Linked DNA regions of Homo sapiens: region 1 is linked to region 2. The links come from fine-mapping of genetic effects on gene expression. Tissue or cell type: tibial artery. Region 2 holds a variant in brackets; the other region holds the start of a gene. All regions are shown on one strand. Distances are between the middles of the regions.

Region 1 (5,222 bases), 21 kb after region 2:
GAGCTGAAGGAGCAGGTGAAATGGGCTGGCCAGAGATAGGGACAAGTTGTGGACATAGAGACCCTCCTGGGCCTGGCCGCAGAGGTGGCCATGTGTTGGCAGGGGCATCTAGGAACAGTTCCTCCAGAGAGCAGAAAGAAGCCCTGATCTCAGACTGGGAATTGGGTCAGAGTGACTCAAGGGCTCACTCTGGGAGCTCTGAGCTCCAGGAAACCAGGGTGCTGGCAGCTCTCTCTGCCTTTCAGGGTCAGGCTGATGGCTCCGGCTAGGGGATGGGAATGGAAGAATAACAGAGTGCAGCCCACCCCCACCTGGACTTCCTGAGGAGCTCCCATTTAGGCTAACGTAATTCTGCCTATTGGGTCCAAGATAGAAACATAGGCAAAAAGCTGTTATTCCCAGTAGGACTTAGAGAGGGAAGGGCTGCTGAAAGAGAGAGGGACAGGAGAGTTTTGGATTGAAGAAGTGTTCTGACCCCATGAGGTGAGGGCCTCCAACAGGCCTTCAGGCGTTAAATATTTTACTCAGGCCCCTGGGAATGAGAATTAGCCCAGGCCAGGCCATGATGGGGCCCATGAGGCCTAGAGCCCCCAAAATAGCCTGTGGGAAGAGGGGCTTCTGCAGGAAGGAATAGGAGCTGGGAAGCCTCCAGGCTTCTTGCCTCCCAGAGAACCATGAGAGTCAGGGGCTGATCCAGGGGTCATGACTGACAACTGGGCCTGAGCTCTCCGGTTCCTTGGTGCCTGGGGAGGAAATGGATTTTGAGCACTGATGCTTTCACTGCCCCAGTCCCCAGTCTCCATCCCTTCTTCTGCATCACTCAGGCCACAGCATTGACATTCATCCAGCTTCCTCTTCAGAGAGGCACCAGCCTTCTCACTGGTGGGTTTGCTGCCGGACTCACCCTTTCCAATCCATCCCAGAGTGATCTTTCTAAAATAAAAATGGGACCCAGTTAATCCCCTGATGAAAAATCCTGTAATAGCTCCATAATGGTATTCATATGTTTGTTTAAATGTAGGTTGACCTTTTATTTAAATGAATTCAAATAAACTTTGAATTCAATATGTAAGCCAGATATTACCATATATCTCATACCATATGGTACCAGATATAACATATATAATTGGTGTTTATTTATTTTACAGATTCAAATGCATTACATTTATTTATTTATTTATTATAAAGTCAACCAATGAAAACAACACAGTTGTTTGCATGACAACAAATTTGAAACTAGCGGCTAGAATGCCAGTGCAGACTTAAGCTTCAGCATCCGGCCAAGTTGTTGCTGTGTTTGTATTTGTACAGTATTGAGAAAGTCCTGATTCAGACCAATAAGTGGTTGGAAATGCTAAAAGGTTTTTTGTTTTGGTTTGTTTTAAACTAAAGGCCTTACAATCTCAAGACGCTCTTTGATGGAACAGATCACAGGGGAAGCCTTATTCTGAGCTTTGCTTTAAAAAAATCTGCAGCACAAGCTAGTGGCCTTCAAGCTGCTAAAATGTCCACCTAATACATTAGAGTGAGTTGGGTTTTATTACACATTTTTAATTGTTTAAAACATAGTCCGAAGAAGAAAGAAAATAAATTGGATTCACATGTGTGCAGACTCCCTGAAACATGGGGCTTGGGGAAGCTAGTTTGGAAATCCCTGACCCCCTTGAGTAAGGTCCAGACTCCTTAACATGATCCCCAAGGCCCTCTGTGGGCTCTTCCACATCCCTCCAGCTCTTCTTCCAACAATCCTGCATTCTTCATTCAGTACTTATTCAGGAACACAGTCCTGAGCTTCAGAGACATCTGCATGACTTTTGCCTGTCCTGTTTCCCTCTCCCTGGGAAACTCCACCTACTCAGGCTTTAAGATCAGGATACGTGCCACTTCTACAAAGCTTTCCCCAGTGTGATGTCACTACTCTACTCCCCCCCCAACTCCCCTAGGCTCTCATCTCTGGAGCCTCCATCATTGTGCAGTGAGCTCCTGAGGCAGGGACTCAGGTTATTTAATTCTTCAATCCCCACTCTTGAGCAGAGCTTGGAGGTGCTAATTGAATGATTGCTGATAGGGTGGACCTGTTGGGGAAGGGTTCTTGGAGGGAAGCAGCAAATTGCTTTAAGATCAAGCTGGAGCTCTTTGGAGGACCGCTGTGGGCCAACCTCTATTCTCGGTTTTCTCCTCAAGCTCTGAGATCTGGGAAGTTGGAGACAGCAAGGTCCAGGGGCAGACCAGGGCATCATCAACTTGTTTGATGGCAGAGAGGAGAGAGCTCCTCTGTGAGGTCCCAGACGGTTGACACCACCACAGGGTCGTGGGGATGTTAATGCCCACTGCAAGGGGAGCAGAACCCGAGCTGGGGGGCAGAGTCCAGCGCTGGGAGCCTGCGGCCAGGGGCGCCGATCGCCCCCCAGCGCAGAGTGTGGATCCCAGTGCCTGGAGAGAGCAGCTCCCTTTCCTTAGGACGCGGGGAGCGCACTGCCCCCAGCCCAGGGCCCAGGACCCAGAGCCAGACCCCAAACGCAGAGTCTCAGGTCCGGAGCCCGATGCCCAGATGGCGGAGACCGGAGCGCACAGCCAGGAACCGGGTTCCCAAAGTCTGGTTACCCGCGCCTGGGGCGCTTCTGGAAGCGCTGCGGACCAGCTTCGCCAACAAGTGCAATCCGCGCTCCCCGGCGGCCCGAGTGGGGAGGGGCTGGGGCTGCGGGCCTCTAGCTGGGCCCTGATGACAGCATGGGGGAGGGGGAGCCTGGCGTGGAACCCGAGTCCCGGTAAAAAAATACACCAGAGCAGAGCTCCCAAAATAAACCCGAGCCCGCGCCAGCTGCAGGGCGCATTCTGGGGCTGAGGAGCTGCGTCCCCTCCCAGAGGGGCGCCACGGGTCCCTTCCCAAGAGACTTATGACCCCTCCTCCGGGGTAACCCTTCCCCCGTCCCCCGCATACCCGTGCATTGCTTTTACCGATTTGGGTTTCTTCTTGGGCGCGAGGTTGTCGTAGAAAATCTTGGCTTCCTCCCAGACCGGGGCCGCAGCGGTCTCCGCTCCTGGCCCGGGCTCGCGGGGCTCCTGGGGCTCCCGGGGCTGCCCAGGTTCCATGCTCCGGCTCTGACCCGGCCCGGCCAGAGCAGGCGGCGGCGTAGACGCGGAGGTGGCTGGGGCTGGGCTGCAGGAGGGAGGCGAGTCCCGGCGAGGGAAGGGGGCGGGCAGCGGCGAGGAGGCTGTGCGTGTGAGCTGGGCTCCCCGCCCGCCGGGCGGGGGGAGGTCACACTGGCCCTCTCGGTCGCCCGTGTGTCGCTGCCGCTGCTGCTGCTACTGCTGTACGGTATGAGGGATAGCTGGGCTCTCCTTCCCCGACCGACCCACGCCAGCAGCCGGTTGGGTGGTGAGGGGGGCTCTCTGGCTCTCTGGGTTTGTGGGCTGCAGCGGATTGGGGATTGCGAAAATGATGTTCTTCGCAGGCGCTGCAGGGCGCGGAGACAGGAGAGGCCTGACAACTTTTTTTTTCCCCCAGGATAGTGATCCCCAAAGGACAAAATGAAAAGCTAGCCGCTCCCCTCCCAAAAGCTAGCTGCCCATCTTTCCTTTAGGAGCTAGGACCCTGGGATCCTGACGATGTCCCCTTCCCTCCGAGGCCAGTCCATCCGGCAGACGGGCAGGAGGTGATGCATGGATGGCTCCTCTCACTAGCAGAAGCCTGCTCCCAGCGGGAGCTCAGTGAAGGGCCCAACCCGGCAGCTCCTCCACACCACCTAGGAGGGGCCCTTGAAGTCCATGTTGAGACCAGGCTCGGGTGGTCTCAGGTCGAGACCTTGGCCTGGGGTGGGGACCCAGGCCAGAGAGACTCCCAGGGACTCTGAACCCGAATTCTTGCTGGCCCTTTGGTGGTCAGCAGAGGGCGCGCATTCCTAGGCCCCCACCTGCCCAGCTTGGGGTGATTTGTTATAGGCCATGAAGGGGCTGGATAGAGGGAGGGCAGAAGAGGGGCCTCGGAACTACCATCCTGGAATTCCAGGGTGTTGTCCCTCTTGATGCAGAGCTCTGTACTAGTCTCAGGGTGCAGACACAAATGTCACCCATCCCAAGGTACAGGCCAGGAAGCAGACAGCCTCTCTCAGAGGTGTGCATGGGTGGGTGGGAGAAGCAGGAGAAAACACTGGCTTAGCTAGGAGGGCCTCTGACTGGGGAGGTGAGGGGGCTACAGAATGGAGTGATCCCCTCAGCCTCCACCAGGTCCTGGGAGGAATAAACCAACCCTTGTGTGGGAGGAAGGGAAAAATCATAATAAAATGTTAGGATTGGGGGAAGTGTGTTTAGACTTACTTCTAGAAGATTGTTTCCAGAGATGGCCCAAAAACCTCTTCCATCCTGCCTGTCCTTTGGAAATGTGACTTTGACATTCCTCCCATTCAGAGGTGGAGTCCAGTCTGAGCTGGCCCTGTGACTTGCTTTGACCAATTGAATGGAGTAGAAGTGGTGCTCTGTGGTTTCCAAGCTTACGTCTTAAGAGGCCTTGCAGATTCCATTTTTGCCCTCTTGGGAGCCAGCTACTATGTAAATAAGTCTGGACTATCCTGCTGGAAAGGCCACGTAGTGAGACAGATAGGACCTGGAGGATAAGAAGCTAGCGACAGCCCAGGTGACTATAGGCACAATTGACAGACATGTGAATGAGGCCATCCTGGCTGTCCCAGCCCCAGCTCAGCTCCCAGTGGAGTGCAGCTATGTGGGTGACGCCAGCCAACACAACCTGAAGCAGTAAAACCTTCCAGCTGAGCCCAGCCAACTCACAGAATCATCAAAAATAATAAATTGTTGTTTCAGGCACCAAGTTTTGGGGTAGCTTGTTACACTGCAATAAATAATTGAAACTCTAGGAATGAGGTCAATTATTCTCAGGTGCCTCATGGAGAAGAATGATGAAGTAACTCAGGAAGAATACATAGAGTGGTTACTTGGATGGAGGTGGGCACTTCACACAAAAGTGAGCCACCCCCATGCTGTCCAGCGGCCTTTAATCTGTGTGATTGGCTTGAAAAGATGACCTGGGCCAAGCAGATTTGTCTTTCTCAGGAATTTGGAATTGGGAAATGGGCTGGGCAGTCAACCATTGGAATAGAAGCTGAGGATGCTGTGAAATACAGTTGGCTCCGAAGAGACCTGGGTGAGCCTCAGCAGACTGCAGTTATATGCAAAGTAAAGCTCGGCGCAGGTGGAGACTCTCTGAG
Region 2 (5,222 bases):
GTGAGAAGGGAGATGGCTTGGTTAGGAAGAGCCTTGGACTGCAATGCAGCTCTGAGAAAGTCCTCATTGGGCCCAGAGTAAAGATGGGGTCCCACGTAGGACAGAAATAGCCTGGTGTTAGCTTCCCCACCATGCCCAGTCACCACTGGGAGCAGGCTAGGAAAAGCATGCTATCTGCCCCATGAAAGCTGCAGCAGACCCAGAGGGGCAGCTGCTGCAGGCTGTTGGGTAATCATGCTCCTTGCAGCAGGTTCTCTCGAAGGAGATGTGAGTTATGCACTCTCCTGGCAGCCACAGAGGATACATGTTTTGCAAGGTCACCCAGCAAGCAAGTAACAAGTTCATATCCTTGGGCTGTGGCTGTATTATTCTCACACTGGGGTGAGCTTTATACCACTTGGAGCTTCATAGGGCTTCTAAGGGGAACTTTGCCAGAGGAAGGAAAGAATGAAGATTCATGGGTGGGTAGGTGCAGCAAACCACCATGGCACTCCTTTACCTATGTAACAAACCTAGGCCAGGCGCGGTGGCTCACGCCTGCAATCCCAACACTTTGGGAGACCGAGACGGTTGGATCACCTGAGGTCAGGAGTTCAAGATCAGCCTGACCAACATAGTGAAACCCTGTCTCTACTAAAAATACAAAATTAGCTGGGTGTGGTGGTGCATGCCTGTAATCCCAGCTACTTGGGAGGCTGAGGCAAGAGAATCACTTGAACCCAGGAGGCAGAGGTTGCAGCGAGCCGAGATTGCGACACTGCACTCCAGCCTGGGTGGCAGAGCGAGACTCCATCTCAAAAAAACAAAACAAAACAAAACAAAACAACAAAAAAAAACCCAAAAACCCTGCCTGTTCTGCACGTGTATCCCAGAACTTAAAATTAAATTAAATTAAATTAAATTTTAAAAAAAGAATGAAGATTCAAATTGCTATGGTCTGAATATACCTCTCCAAAATTAATATGCTGAAACCTTATCACCAATGTGATGATATTAGGAGGTCGGGCCTTTGGGAGATTATGAGATCTTGAGGGTGGAAGCATATGCCACCATGCCCAGCTAATTTTTGTATTTTTAGTAGAGACGGGGTTTCTACTAAACATGTTGGCCAGGATGGTCTCAATCTCCTGACCTCGTGATTCACCCGCCTCAGCCTCCCAAAGTGCTGGGATTACAGGTGTGAGCCACCGCGCCCGGCCAAAAATAATGTTTCTTTAAGTGACCTATTGGAAAATAAAACTGGCTACTAGTAAGCACAAGAAAAAAAAACAGAACACATAGGCCTTAGGTCATGGATGAGCTTTGCAAGTTGAAAAGGGAGTGCACACGGGAGGAGAAAGAATTATGTCTGTGATTTCTTTATCTGGTGGTTACTCCTTTTTTTTTTTTTGGTTCCAGCTCCAAGCCACAGTCACATCTGTATCACATCATGGGGTTTTTATTCCCAAATCCAGTCCAAGACCATGTCAGAAAGTAGAGGATTCATTTATGGCACCAGAGGCTGGGGCTGATATCCAAGGCCTAGGAAGGAGGGGGTGTTAGGATGCCACCCTTCCCCCACCCCTGCCTTTCCCTCACCTTGGACATGGGCCACTGGTCATAAAACAGGACAAACAGCTCTGGGACCACTGGCCTTATGGACATTATAAAAATTTTACCATGAGACTAAGACATCTCAGAACACAGTTTCGATGATGTCCCCAAGTAGGTGACTCCAAGGCCCCTGAAGGAATGTTGGACAGGAGGTGTGGGAAGGAAGTAGATGAAGAATCATATTTCTCTCCATTCCTGGTGACTGGGTGGGGACAGGTGGGAAAGCAAGGGGACTTCAGGTTGGAGAATCCAGGAGACACATTCAAGTCTAGTCTTGCCACAGGGCAGAAGAACGGTTAACATAACCTTGGGGGCCCCTGGTATACCAGACTGATGGAGGTATAATAATATGTGGTAGCCAACCTCCAAGATGGCCCCTAATCATCTCCACTTCCTGATATTCACCTCCTTGCGTAGTCCCCTCTCACCTTGTATCAGGGTTTGTCTGTGTGACCAATGGAATATGCTAGAGGTGATGACATGTCACTTCCAAGGCTAGGTCATAAAAGATGGTGTGGCTTTTGCCTTGCTCTCTTGGATTACTCACTCTCAGGGAAGCCAACAGCCATGTCATGAGGACACTCAGGTAACATTGTGGTGAGGAACTCTGGTCACCTGCCAACAGCCATGTGAGTGAGCCATCTTGGAGGCAGCTCCTCCAGCCCTAGGCAAGCCTTCCATTGACTGCAGCTCCACCTGGCAGCTTGACTACAACCTCATGAGAGGCTCTGAGTAAGAACCACCCAGAAAAGCCACTCTTGGATTCCTGCTCTGCAGACACTTTGAGGTGCAGGAAGACCCTGGGGTGTAGGAAGACCCTGGGGTGCAGGAAGAAGAATGATGTGAGGGCTGGAGTCTGAGTTATCCCCTTCTTCCTTCATCTCACATCCTTTCTCATCTTCTCTTCCTCCCTCTCCATCCCCACCCTTGGTAGTTCCAGATGGGAACACCGAGTCCATGTGAGGAGCCCTGTTGGGGGAAGCTTGCCTTCTGATGCTCTCAGGCTGCTGTCCATTGCGGAATCTCCCCTCAGGGTGGTCTTCATGTGCTGGGACAGATTCTACAGAAAGATCCCAGCACTAGTGGATGAATCGGGTCCCAGGCCTCTTCATTACCTACGTCACCATTAGCATTTCATGAGGGGCCATATGCCAGTTTGTGAATACAATTGTGGGGAAAAAACAAGACAACGTAAGTTAATTAAAACCCTCTCCATTTATTTGAATGGCTTTTAAGAAGCAGAAGCACATGTGGTAAAATTAAGGTATAGGACATGCATGAGAAGTGACAGGGACCCACACTGGCAAGCACTCAGCACCCTTTATCATGTGACCAGGTAAATGTTACAAAGAGCCAGACAGGTCTGGATCGATGGGGTGTGCTACTAGTAGGCCAAAGAGGGCAAAGCTGGGAGAAGTACAAGCAGTCTTATTCCCAGACAAGGGAAGTCACAAAGACGAAGAAACACATGCTCTAACCATTTACGGAGGCACTTAGGTTTATCA[T/C]AACAAGCAACCCAGAGAGGTTGGGTGATGAGGAAGACTGAGGCAGCAAATGCTATCAAAGCAAAGGGCTTCTGACAGGTAGATACAAGCACATTATGCACACAGGTTTCATTTTTCATCGTATTCTATATCGGAGGTTATTGAGATGCTCTTAAGTAGAAACCAGAAGTTAAGTATATGTGCGCTATTACATTAATAAAGAAGTTCGTAGGCCGAGTGTGGTGGCTCACGCCTGTAATCCCAGCACTTTGGGAGGCAGAGGCTGGTGGATCACCTGAGGTCAGGAGTTCGAGACCAGCCTGGCCAATATGGTGAAACCCCATCTCTACTAAAAATACAAAAAATTAGCTGGGCATGGTGGCGGGCACCTGTAATCCCAGCTACTCAGGAAGCTGAGGCAGGAGAATTGCTTGACCCCAGGAGGCGGAGGTTGCAGTGAGCCAAGATTGTGCCACTGCACTCCAGCCTGAGTGACAGAGCAAGACTCCGTCTCAAAAAAAAAAAAAAAAAAAAAAAAAAAAAAAAAAAAAGAAGTTTGTACATACGCAGTTTTGAACACACAAAGGCTGAGCTAGGTCATCTCTGAGGTCTCTTAAATATCCATCACTGAGAATCTGAGTGTAATATCCTCAGACTCTCAGTGACTTGGGTCTTAAAAACCCAAGTCTCTGGGCCTGGGCCAGCGGATGCAAACTGGAGATTCAAGGGCCGGATCTCGCCTACAGAATATGTTTTATTTGGCCCAGATGGTGTTTTCTAAATTCAAAATAGTTGCCAACATTTAAAAGTCCAGATTCCCAGCTTCTCTTCAAAAATGGGGCGGACTATCCGGCAACCTCAGGCCACATTCCCATGTGGCAGCAACCATGGCAGACCACAGTGTTCTCCATTCTCAGTGAAGAACTGGCTTAATCCTCTCCACTCATTTATGTTTCCTGCCTCGCCCCTGTAGGCATTGGGGTTTGTGACCCTGGCCCAGGCATCCAGTCTAGGGTGACCTCAGTGATTTTCTTGGTGGCTTCTTGGTGGCAGTTAGCTACAAGACTAGCCTTGAGGCCTTTACCCTAATTCCGTGGCAGATGGCCATGAAGGCATATATTCACCCACAGGCCAGGAGTGTGGGAGTCAGTGACCCCAGTCTTCACAGCTTTGGTTTGCCTTACAGAGGCTTTCACTTTGCAAAGATGAGTAACTGAAAAGTTCCCAGCCACATTTCACTTTTATAAATGGAATTCCAAAGGCCTCTAGGGGATGGCCCATCAGGGAGATACTTCCCAATTAAGGTCAATGGTAAGTCACTTCTGGGCCACATTAGAACACTCAAGCAGAGGCAGGAATCTTTGCCTAGGTTGGGCAGGGCTGGTAGTGGGGAGGGAAGGCAACTTTCGTAGCCATGGCCATGAGATGACCAGGGCATCTGTATACAGTTGGCAGGTTGTGCAGGTGTCTAATAGGTACTACCCATGTCACAATACCAATGGCGCCCTCTAGATTTTTGCAGTGCACAATCTGCCCAACTGGACACGTTGGCCTTGGCACTGTTAGGGGGAGGGAAGAAACAAATGGAGATGATGAGGCAGGTATAGTCAAAAGGATTGCCCTTACACAGATTCTACCACTTCCTTCCCAAGGCTCAGGAGTAGGGGTAGGAGGCAGAGGGTTAGGAGCCAAGACTTTCTTGGCCAGAGGTTGGGGGCTGGTCTCGGTGGCCCCCAAGCTGCACATACGCAAATGCCCATGTTATGATGGAAATGGGTACAACTATCCTAGGGCTGGCCATCAGTATGTGGGTCCCAGGACACTCAGTTAACAGAGATAACCATCTGTACACATAGTGAGTACACACACACACACAGAGTCATTGGCTGAGATATCTGGCCCATTACACACACCCACATAAATACACGTACGTGTACGATTTTTATCCTGTTGCACAAACTTAATATGTGTGCATCCATACACACAATCACAGTAATTGCCGGCAAGAGCAATCGGCTCGTCACTCGGGCATATTTAGCAAACATTTCCAGAGCACCTGAAGTCCTTTTTGGCTGGCTAGAGCTAACCGTGGGGAGAGTCCAGCGCAGCACTAAGTCAGTGGGAGAGAAAAGTAAATCAGTGGGT

What was found. PIP is the estimated chance that this variant, and not a neighbour inherited with it, causes the effect. A credible set is the group of variants that fine-mapping cannot tell apart.
Region 1: it holds the start of NT5C1A, and the variant in region 2 is the best candidate, but not a certain one, in a credible set for the expression of NT5C1A in tibial artery (GTEx, PIP 0.56).

Annotation. Positions count from the first base shown.
Region 1 is chr1:39,668,946-39,674,167 of GRCh38, forward strand. NT5C1A (5'-nucleotidase, cytosolic IA) reads right to left here and starts at 3,162. Exons shown (of 6, transcript NM_032526.3): 1 at 2,959-3,162. The coding sequence starts at 3,093. RefSeq lists a silencer at 2,945-3,354.
Region 2 is chr1:39,648,440-39,653,661 of GRCh38, forward strand. NT5C1A (5'-nucleotidase, cytosolic IA) reads right to left here. Exons shown (of 6, transcript NM_032526.3): 6 at 2,790-5,222. Among named protein-coding and RNA genes, the nearest start is that of HEYL, 11 kb to the left of the region's middle. The variant T/C (reference allele first, on the strand shown) is at 3,099.